Regions from separate parts of the Homo sapiens genome. Here regions 2 and 3 are each linked to region 1. Evidence: fine-mapped expression QTL. A gene starts in region 1. Each other region holds a variant in brackets. All regions are shown on one strand. Distances are between the middles of the regions. Region 1 holds the start of HMGB1 (high mobility group box 1). Region 2 has its middle 16 kb from the start of UBE2L5. Region 3 holds the start of UBE2L5 (ubiquitin conjugating enzyme E2 L5).

Evidence for each region.
Region 2: its variant is fine-mapped to the expression of HMGB1 in whole blood (TOPMed, PIP above 0.99).
Region 3: its variant is fine-mapped to the expression of HMGB1 in whole blood (TOPMed, PIP 0.99).

Annotation. Positions count from the first base shown.
Region 1 is chr13:30,464,475-30,467,228 of GRCh38, reverse strand. It overlaps HMGB1 (high mobility group box 1), which reads left to right and starts at 1,293. Exons shown (of 5, transcript NM_002128.7): 1 at 1,293-1,433. RefSeq lists enhancers at 334-1,109, 1,110-1,885 and silencers at 1,321-1,630, 2,230-2,754.
Region 2 is chr13:30,437,354-30,440,107 of GRCh38, reverse strand. No RefSeq gene overlaps it. Among named protein-coding and RNA genes, the nearest start is that of UBE2L5, 16 kb to the right of the region's middle. The variant C/T (reference allele first, on the strand shown) is at 1,182.
Region 3 is chr13:30,419,967-30,422,720 of GRCh38, reverse strand. UBE2L5 (ubiquitin conjugating enzyme E2 L5) reads right to left here and starts at 228. Exons shown (of 4, transcript NM_001355247.2): 1 at 44-228. LINC01058 (long intergenic non-protein coding RNA 1058) reads left to right here and starts at 477. Exons shown (of 2, transcript NR_125771.1): 1 at 477-504. RefSeq lists silencers at 266-555, 996-1,175. The variant G/A (reference allele first, on the strand shown) is at 1,449.

The sequences.
Region 1 (2,754 bases):
GAAAAAAAAGGGAAGTCTGTTATAACTGAATAGGGGCGTGGTCTGCTCAGGCTAAAAGGAATAGATAGTAGTTTCATAAAGGACTGATATAACTGTAGAGTCTTCAGAACTGGCCACTACAGCCAGCACATTTTCTCTACAGACGTAAGTATGTCTATTAATACCAGCCAGCTTGGTGAGTTAGAGAAACCACAGCCTGTGGATTTGGGCACATGCACTCTCTGCCTGCATCTAATCCTTCGGGTAACCATATACCTACAACTCCTGTAATCCTAGAGCAGTTACATGGATGCACTAAGTGGTGTGATGGGAGGGAAAGATAGCATCACAAGGATTCGTTTGATTGTAACAGTAATCCACACCAAGTCAAATAAAATAGCCAAACAGTTTAGAATGTGGTCTCTAATGAATTTGCTAATTCTACCAGGGCCTCACAAACATTTCCTGCTAGAGTACCCCATATCAAACCAAGTGGCTGTTCTTTAATTACATGGAATAATTATTTGATTTCCAGGAAGTTAAGACAGTGCTTTGTATTTAAATAAAAAGTTCTAGACATGCTGTGAAACTCGATCAAACCAAGAAAAAGGGTGAAACTGAATGCCTGCTCACTGACTCAAGATTTCAGCTGCTCAGCGAGCCTGACGTGACGGCTTATGAGCCCAGAAAAGGGGTATTTTAAACCCGGCTGGCTGGATCATGTCACTTTCTTATAGAAGCCCTGCCTTTCCAGAGACCTAAAGTGTAACGCAATCAGAGACCTTTGAGGGGCTCGAGGCTCGGCGGCTTCCGCCCCTCAGCACCAGCAGAGACCCCAGTTTTCAGGGGACATGATCCCATAGTGTCGCCCTCACTTTTGAAGGGCCATTAAAAGCCTGGGGCCTCTTATCTCAACGGCTTTGGGCGTGAATGTGGGGCAAGAAGGGGGGGGGAGACCTGTGGGTGTCTCTTTTGCCTGAGGAGTTGGAGACACTTGTGGAAAAGTCAGGCCCTTTTCGCTCCGGCGGCCGCTCCGGTGTGGGGCTGGCTTGGGTTAGACACATGCACACATACACCATAGAGCTCTGCTTTCCCGTAGCAGCTGCTGCCTCTGCCTCTGCCTCTCCCGCCTCAGCCTCTTTGCCCGGCATACACACACATTCAGATTTGCGCGCTGTTTCAATCCTTGATGACGTGTCCCCGGAGACAGCCAATAGCAAACGGGCTCTGGTCAGGACAATGGGAGGTATCGGGCCAATGAGCGAGCCCCGTGAGTTGGCGGTAGCCAATAGGAGCCGCGCTGGCTGGAGAGTAATGTTACAGAGCGGAGAGAGTGAGGAGGCTGCGTCTGGCTCCCGCTCTCACAGCCATTGCAGTACATTGAGCTCCATAGAGACAGCACCGGGGCAAGTGAGAGCCGGACGGGCACTGGGCGACTCTGTGCCTCGCTGAGGGTGAGTCTGGGGCAGCGCCGCGGCGGGGAGAGCGCCTCCGGCAGCTCCCCAGCCCGCGCGGCGGCCGGATCCCCGCGGCCGGGAGCCGGCGGGTCAGGATCCACACAAAGGCAAATGAGGGGGGACCGTGGGGGGAACTGCGCACGGAGCGAGCCTCTGCCCGGGCGCCGGGAACGCTGCCCCGCGCCGGTGCCCCGGCCCTCAGGCAGCCTGAGGCGCCGGGAGCCCCGCGCCCCGCGAGTTTCCACCCCCGGCGGCGTCCGCGCTGACTGGCGCAAAAAAAAAAATTTTTTTTTTAATTAAAAAAATTTTGAACGTGTTTTGGGCCCTCGGGCCGGGCGTTCGGGCGGGCGGCGTGCGCGGAGCGCGGCCGGGGCGGCGGGGCCGGCGCGGCTCGGCGGCGGCGGCGGGAGGGCAGCGGCGGCGCTTCCCCGGGCTGCATTGGCCGCCGCCGCAGCGAGCCGGGCGCTGGCGGGGAGCGCGGCCAGCCGGGCGGGCGGCGGGGCGGGCGGGGCGCCGCGGCGGGCGAGGGCGGCGCGGGGGCCTGGGGGCGGCAGTGCGGGCCCGGCCGGCCTCGGCCCGGTCGCGGCGGCGGCGGCGGCCGGGCGGCGGGGGGAGCGGCGCCGCTGCGCTCGCTGGAACATGGCTGACTCGGGCCCGGCGCTGCTGGCTGGAGAGAAAACAAGGCGGGCGGGCGGGGGAGCTGGGCGCAGCAGTTCCGAGGCAACTTTTTTTTTCCTCTCTCTTTTCACAGCCCCGCGTTCTCCGTGCGGGGGCGGCGGGGCGCGCGGCCCGCGCGGAGGGAGACGGGGAGTGGCGGGCGGGTGGGCCCTCGGGCGGCCCCCACCGCGGCGGGGGGAGGGGAGCGGCGCGGAGGGGAGGGCCCGGCCGCGCGCCCCCCGCCCCTCCCCCGGCCGTAATGGCCGAGTGTGTGCGCCAGAGCGCGGCTCGCACCCCGCCCGCCGCCGCCGCCGCGCCCGCACCCTCGCACTCACACACTCTCTCATACACACACACACACACACACACACACAAAGGGAAGGAGCCATATTCTCGCTCGCGCTCGCCCTCGCGGCGGCGGCGGCGCAGGCGGAGAAGACGCGCAGCGGCCATTCCGTGCGCGCCGGCCCCGGCGGCCGCGGGCGGAGCCAGCCCCCATTTCGAGCGGGGCTTCTCCCTGCGCCGAGCCTGACAAAATGGGGGCGGCGGCGGCGCGGGCCTGCAGGGCCTGCCGGGCGCACGTGGCGGCCTCGGGCCTGGGAGCCGGGCCGCGTCCTCTCTCCTCGGCCGCGCGGCCACCGGCGAAGTTCTAGGGGCGGGG
Region 2 (2,754 bases), 27 kb after region 1:
GGTAACCAGAGGTCACTGCTTCCTTAGCAAGCTAGGGAGATTCCAGGCCCTAGGTCAGTGTCTGATGGGAAGGACACACAGGAGGTCTGGATCTCTCACTTATTTCAGGATTAATGTACCCAACCATGCTACATTCCCACTGGAGAAAGCAAGTTAATGGCACTTCCAGACAAATTACGCACTATATCCTTAGATCATGTAGGTCAAGGGTCAGCAAACCTTTCCTGTAAGGTTCATTTTCAGTCTGCAACTTAGGTCTTCAGTGTTGTGAGTTGTAGGGTCTCTATCACAACTGCTCAGCTCCACCATAGTAGTTGGAAGCAGCCATCGGCAATCCAAAAAGAGCGAGCCTGGCTGTACTCTAAGCAACTTACAGTTACCCAAACTGGAGGCGGGCTGGATTTGGCCCACAGATAGTTTGCCAAACCCTGATGTATGTTATTAATAAAGAATCCTTTGCATAGATAATGTATTTTTGAAGAAGAATTATTTCTGGAAGTTACTTTAATTGGGGTACGGCCAGTGGGCAGTTAGGAGCTCTCTTTTGAACTAACCTATTCATCAATTAGCCATTCCTACTATTTTCTTTTCTTTTTTTTTTGAGACAGGGTCTCACTTTATCACCCAAGCTGGAGTGCAGTGGCACCATTACCACCCACTGCAGGCTTGACCTCCCAGGCTCAAGCGATTCTCCTGTCTCAGCCTCCCAAGTAGCTGGGACTACAGGTGCCAGCCACCACACCTAGCTACTTTATATATTTTTTGTAGAGACAGGGTTTCACCATGTTGCCCAGCCTGGTCTCTAACTCCCAGACTCAAGCAATCCGCCCACCTTGGCCTTCCAAATTGCTGGTATTACAGGTGTGAGCCACCACACCCAGCCCTAATTCCTACTATTTTCTACATTTGGACTATGAAATTTGACTTTTCTAATTCTACTGCGAAATCACATAGTGAGTGTGTAAAAGTGATGGTGTGTGATCCTCTTCACAAATTTCTATTCCCTTCCTTATCTGTTGGGAGACATTAGACACATTCATTTGAAAAATTGTTCTTTTCAACCAGTTCTTTTATTTCCATACACCATTTAAAAAGTAATTCCCACTGCATCTACACAAAGTTAAAATATATTAATTTGCTTCAATATAGCATTTTCTTTATTGTGTGCCAGAAAAATATCA[C/T]GGAAATTTTCCTGTACTGAAAAGCAAATACCGCTTTTCCACTTGGGCAGCCTCTCCCATCCAATCGTCATTCACATACACCTTCATCATTCACTGGGTTCTCACTGAGCACTCCCTCTTAGCCATGCAGGTGCTCACAGATGTACCCCAAAGAGGAGCGGCGTGCAAAGCAACATGTCTTCAAATTCAAAAGTGACAGTGGGTTTGAGGACAAGAGAGGGGAAGAAATCCAAATTTAGAGGAAGAGTAGCAAGTGGTAAGGCTTGGGCCCAGGAATGAGCCAAGCGCAGGCGGGGAGAATAAATAGATTAGCTCAGCAACAGAAGAGGAGCCCAGCCTTTGGAGACTACAAAGGGTCATAAGGAGGACACAATTATTAAAGTAATGCAGAAGCCACTGTAATTTCTCAAGCAGGAAACTGACAGTGACAAAAATGGTGCTTGGCCAGGTGCAGTGGCTCATATCTGTGATAAGTTAGCCAGGTGTGGTGGCTCACACCTGTAGTCGGGAGGCAGAGGTGGGAAGATTGCCTGAGACCAGGAGCTCAAGGCTGTAGTGAGCTGAGTTCATACCACTGTACTCTAGCCTGGGCAACAGAGCAAGACCCTGTCTCAAAAAAAAAAAAAAAAAAAAAAAAAAAAGCCAGGTGCTGTGGCTCATGTCTGTAGTCCCAGAACTTTGGGAGGCCAAGGCAGATTGATCGCTTGAGCCCACAAGTTCAAGACCATCCTGAGCAACATGCCAAAACCTCATCTCTACAAAACATAAAAAAAAAAAACATTAGCCAGGCGTGGTGGTGTGCCTATAGTCCCAGCTACTCAGGAGGCTTAGGTGGGAGAATCCTTTGAGCCTGAGGTGAAGGCTGCAGTGAACTGAGATCGTGCCACTGCACTCCAGCCTGGGCAACACAGTGACACCCTGTCTCAAACAATAAAAAATAAATGGTGCTTTAGGCAGCGTGTTCTGTGGTTTCCCGGCCATTGGAGGTAAAACACTCACTGGGGCTGGGTCACCATGGGGCAGGCAAAATGGACATTAAGGTCAGGGTCCAAGAAGATTCCACAGGAATCAAGAGGATGATGGTAGTGTCACCAATTCCAGAACAATTGAAAAGATGTGGTGCTCATTTGAGAAAATGGTTTGCATCTTTAGCCTGTGCACATGTGATTTTAGGCTAATTTTCACACGGCCGTCGAGAGACTTGAAAACCTCTAGGTATTTTCATGCTCCTAGAGTGAGGATGTTCTATGGGTGGGTAGAGGTGGGTTATCTGTGTGGGTTTTATGCACTCTTCTTTACAGAGAGGTGGTAGCTGAACCAGGTAAGGAGCTTTCTGTCCTTTCTGACATCTGTTTGCTTAATGATCTCTGCCTACACCCTGTAGAGTTTGAAAAGCAACGTACTAGAACCATGTTTCTTCTGACATACGCTGGCTGTACAATGCACACGCTTTCCGACAATATCCACATCAGACACCTCTCTGCTGATTCTAGGCTCCCAGACTGTGGCTTTTGATTTATCCTGTGAATTGCCTGAATTGCCAGCTCTGGCTAGGCTGGCTTCTGAGCACAGC
Region 3 (2,754 bases), 45 kb after region 1:
AGACTCACAAGCATCCTTGTGAATGGATTAAAAAGGCACTTACAGGGATGACCCGCAAAGATCCTAGTTTCAAGACACAACAAAAAGCCTCCAGGAAGTGAAGCCAGCAGGTTCTAATCTCATTTATTTTCACGGCTATGTTTTTTTAATTGTAGTTTTCCACTGTAAAACCAAAGAGCATCAAAGGAGAACAGCTTTCCCTCTCCCGGAAGCCTCACGGAGCGGAGTTCCCTGAGCTGCGCGGCCGCCGGTCACGGGGAAGTGCCCCGCGCGCGGAGCTCCCCAAGCGCCCAGCCCTGCCTGCGCCGCAGCCGCCACCACCGCTGCCACCACCGCCGCCGCGGCCAGGGAGCTGCGCTGGGCGGGGCTGGGCTGGGCTGGGCTGGGCTGGGCTGGGCTGGGAGGGGCGGGGCGGGGCGGGGCGGGGCGGGCGTCCGTAGTTATTTATTTATTTAGCGGCTGCAGAAAAGCTCTGCGGCGCTCGCGAAACCCGAAGACTTGCAGGTAGCCAGGCGCTCCCACTCGTCCAACAGCTCCCGGGCTGGCTTGGGAGAAACTAAGGAACTTGCTTCGCCCCCCCGCCGCTCCCTGGGGCCGCTCGCCACCCGCGGAACTTGCCATCCCCGCTCTTCCCCACTTTCTACCCCCACCTCCGCCCGCCCCACCTTCCCCTTTCCCCGCTTTCCCCTCTCCCACCTCCTCCTTCTCTCCCCTCCCACATCCCCGGTCTCCCACTTCCCCCTCCTTCCCGACCCACCTCTCCCTCCTCCCCGCCCCACCTCTCCCTCCTCCCCGCCCCACCTCTCCCTCCTCCCCTTCCTCCTCCTCCCCCCCGCTCCTCTCCTTACCACCTCCTCCGCCCTCCCCCACCTCCTCCCCGGTCCCTTCTCCACCCCCTCTTTCCCCACTCCGCTCCCCGGGCGGCGGGCGGCTCCCTGGCTCCGGCGTGTACAGATTTGGGCAGAATGTGGTTCCAAGGCTCTCGGTCAAGAATTCGGAGGAGGAAAGTTTGCTGGCGGCGCCGCGGCTCACACCACTCCCCGCCCTGGGGGCGGTCCTCGAGGCCGGGCCCCGCCGCCCGTGCTTCCCTTCCCGGAGCCTTCGCTCTTCCCCGGGAAGGCCCGGCCTTACATAAGGGCCCGTGCGCCCGCCCCAGCCCTGTGGGCAGCGCGCTCTTGCTCTGCTCAGTTTAACGAAGATTCTGCTCCTGAAACTTAGTACAGATAAAAAGGGCAGCGGTCCGTTTCATTTTAGACAGGAAAATGAGGGCGCAAAAGGGGACTGAGGGAGAGAGGCCAGAGAACAAGACAGCAGGTTCGTGCTGGTGGCAGGTGGATGGGTAGAAGGTTCCTTGAGAGCGGAATTTCCTATTTGGATGCCTGTGCAGAGGGAAGTGGCTGTAAAGATCAAGTAGCTTTGATAACGCCAAGGTAGCCTGGACAACAGAA[G/A]CCCAGGGAAGGAAAGGGGGCGGGACTTATGCTGCCAGAAAGGATGATCACTATCCGGATCTTCAGTAGGACCCGCGCCTCAGCGAGGGCGCGTGTAGAGGAGATGTGGGTATGGGCCATGTGCAGGGAGCATAATGCCTGCGTCTCCAGCGCAGGCCTGGCATACAACAGGCACACCATAAACAGCTAACACGTGGGCACTGTGCTAAAACTTTGCCAACTTGGTTGCATTTAATCCTTAGAACAATTGAGCCCTCCTTACTCCCATTTTACACACGGGAGACTGAGACCTGGATGGGCTAAGTGACTTGGCCATGACCACACAGCTCTTTGCAGCCGACCGAGGACTCAAACCTTGGACTCCAAAACTCATGCTATGGGACAACTTCGTATTTGGGAGGCGTAATACAAAAGGGTTCAGCTTTGGGGCAGAGTGAAGGGGCACCGCGTTTCGAAGATGGGCAGGTAGGCTTGCAGCAGGTGGATATGTATGTTCCCACAGTTCTCTCACACTCACATTTCACCATGGACACAGCAGAGCTTTACCCCTCAGGACGTTACTGAGGCGGTTCATTAGCCCGAGTTTCTGAATTCCTCTACTTCCTCCACAGTGGGTACTTGAGGAGCTGTTGTCTCTGGTTAACCCAAGTCTCCTTGTGGCTCTTTAGGGAAATTCCCTGTGCCCAAGACTGGTATCCATGTGCAGAGTTACTGGACTATCCAACGGGATTAAAAACAATTCCCCAAATTCCCATTCTTCTGGGAATTCGTGGGATTCCTGGCCCACACAATATTTTATAAGGGGCCTAACCTGGAGCCTAAGGATGTGGGTGTGCAGGAGTAATGATGATGGGACATTCTTAGTCTAGCGTGAATGTGTGTCCCTTTGCTGCTTCTCCCCAGCAACTATGAAACACCTGATACTGTTAGGCCCCTCCGATAGTTTCTTTTTAAACGGTTTTGAGATCCCACTAAGGATGTTTTTTTTTGCTTCAGTTGCTATTTTTACTACCGCTTAACATCCACACACTCATACGAACCCAGAAGACACCCTAATCCCCCCCAAAAGTGAGAGAAAGATTTGACATCCCAGCCTGCTAAGGAAGTCAGTGGGAAGCCTGGTTTTCAAATCAAATGTCTACACATGTTCCAATAGAGTACAGAGAAAATCGGTGTTTAAGAGCCCATGTGGTGGGATAATACCTTAGGGTGCTATCTGATAGTTCATTTATTTCTAAACCTAGTGTAGCTGCCATATTGATAATTAAATATCCCATAGGAGCTCTAGGAGGGTCTCCTCGTGTTA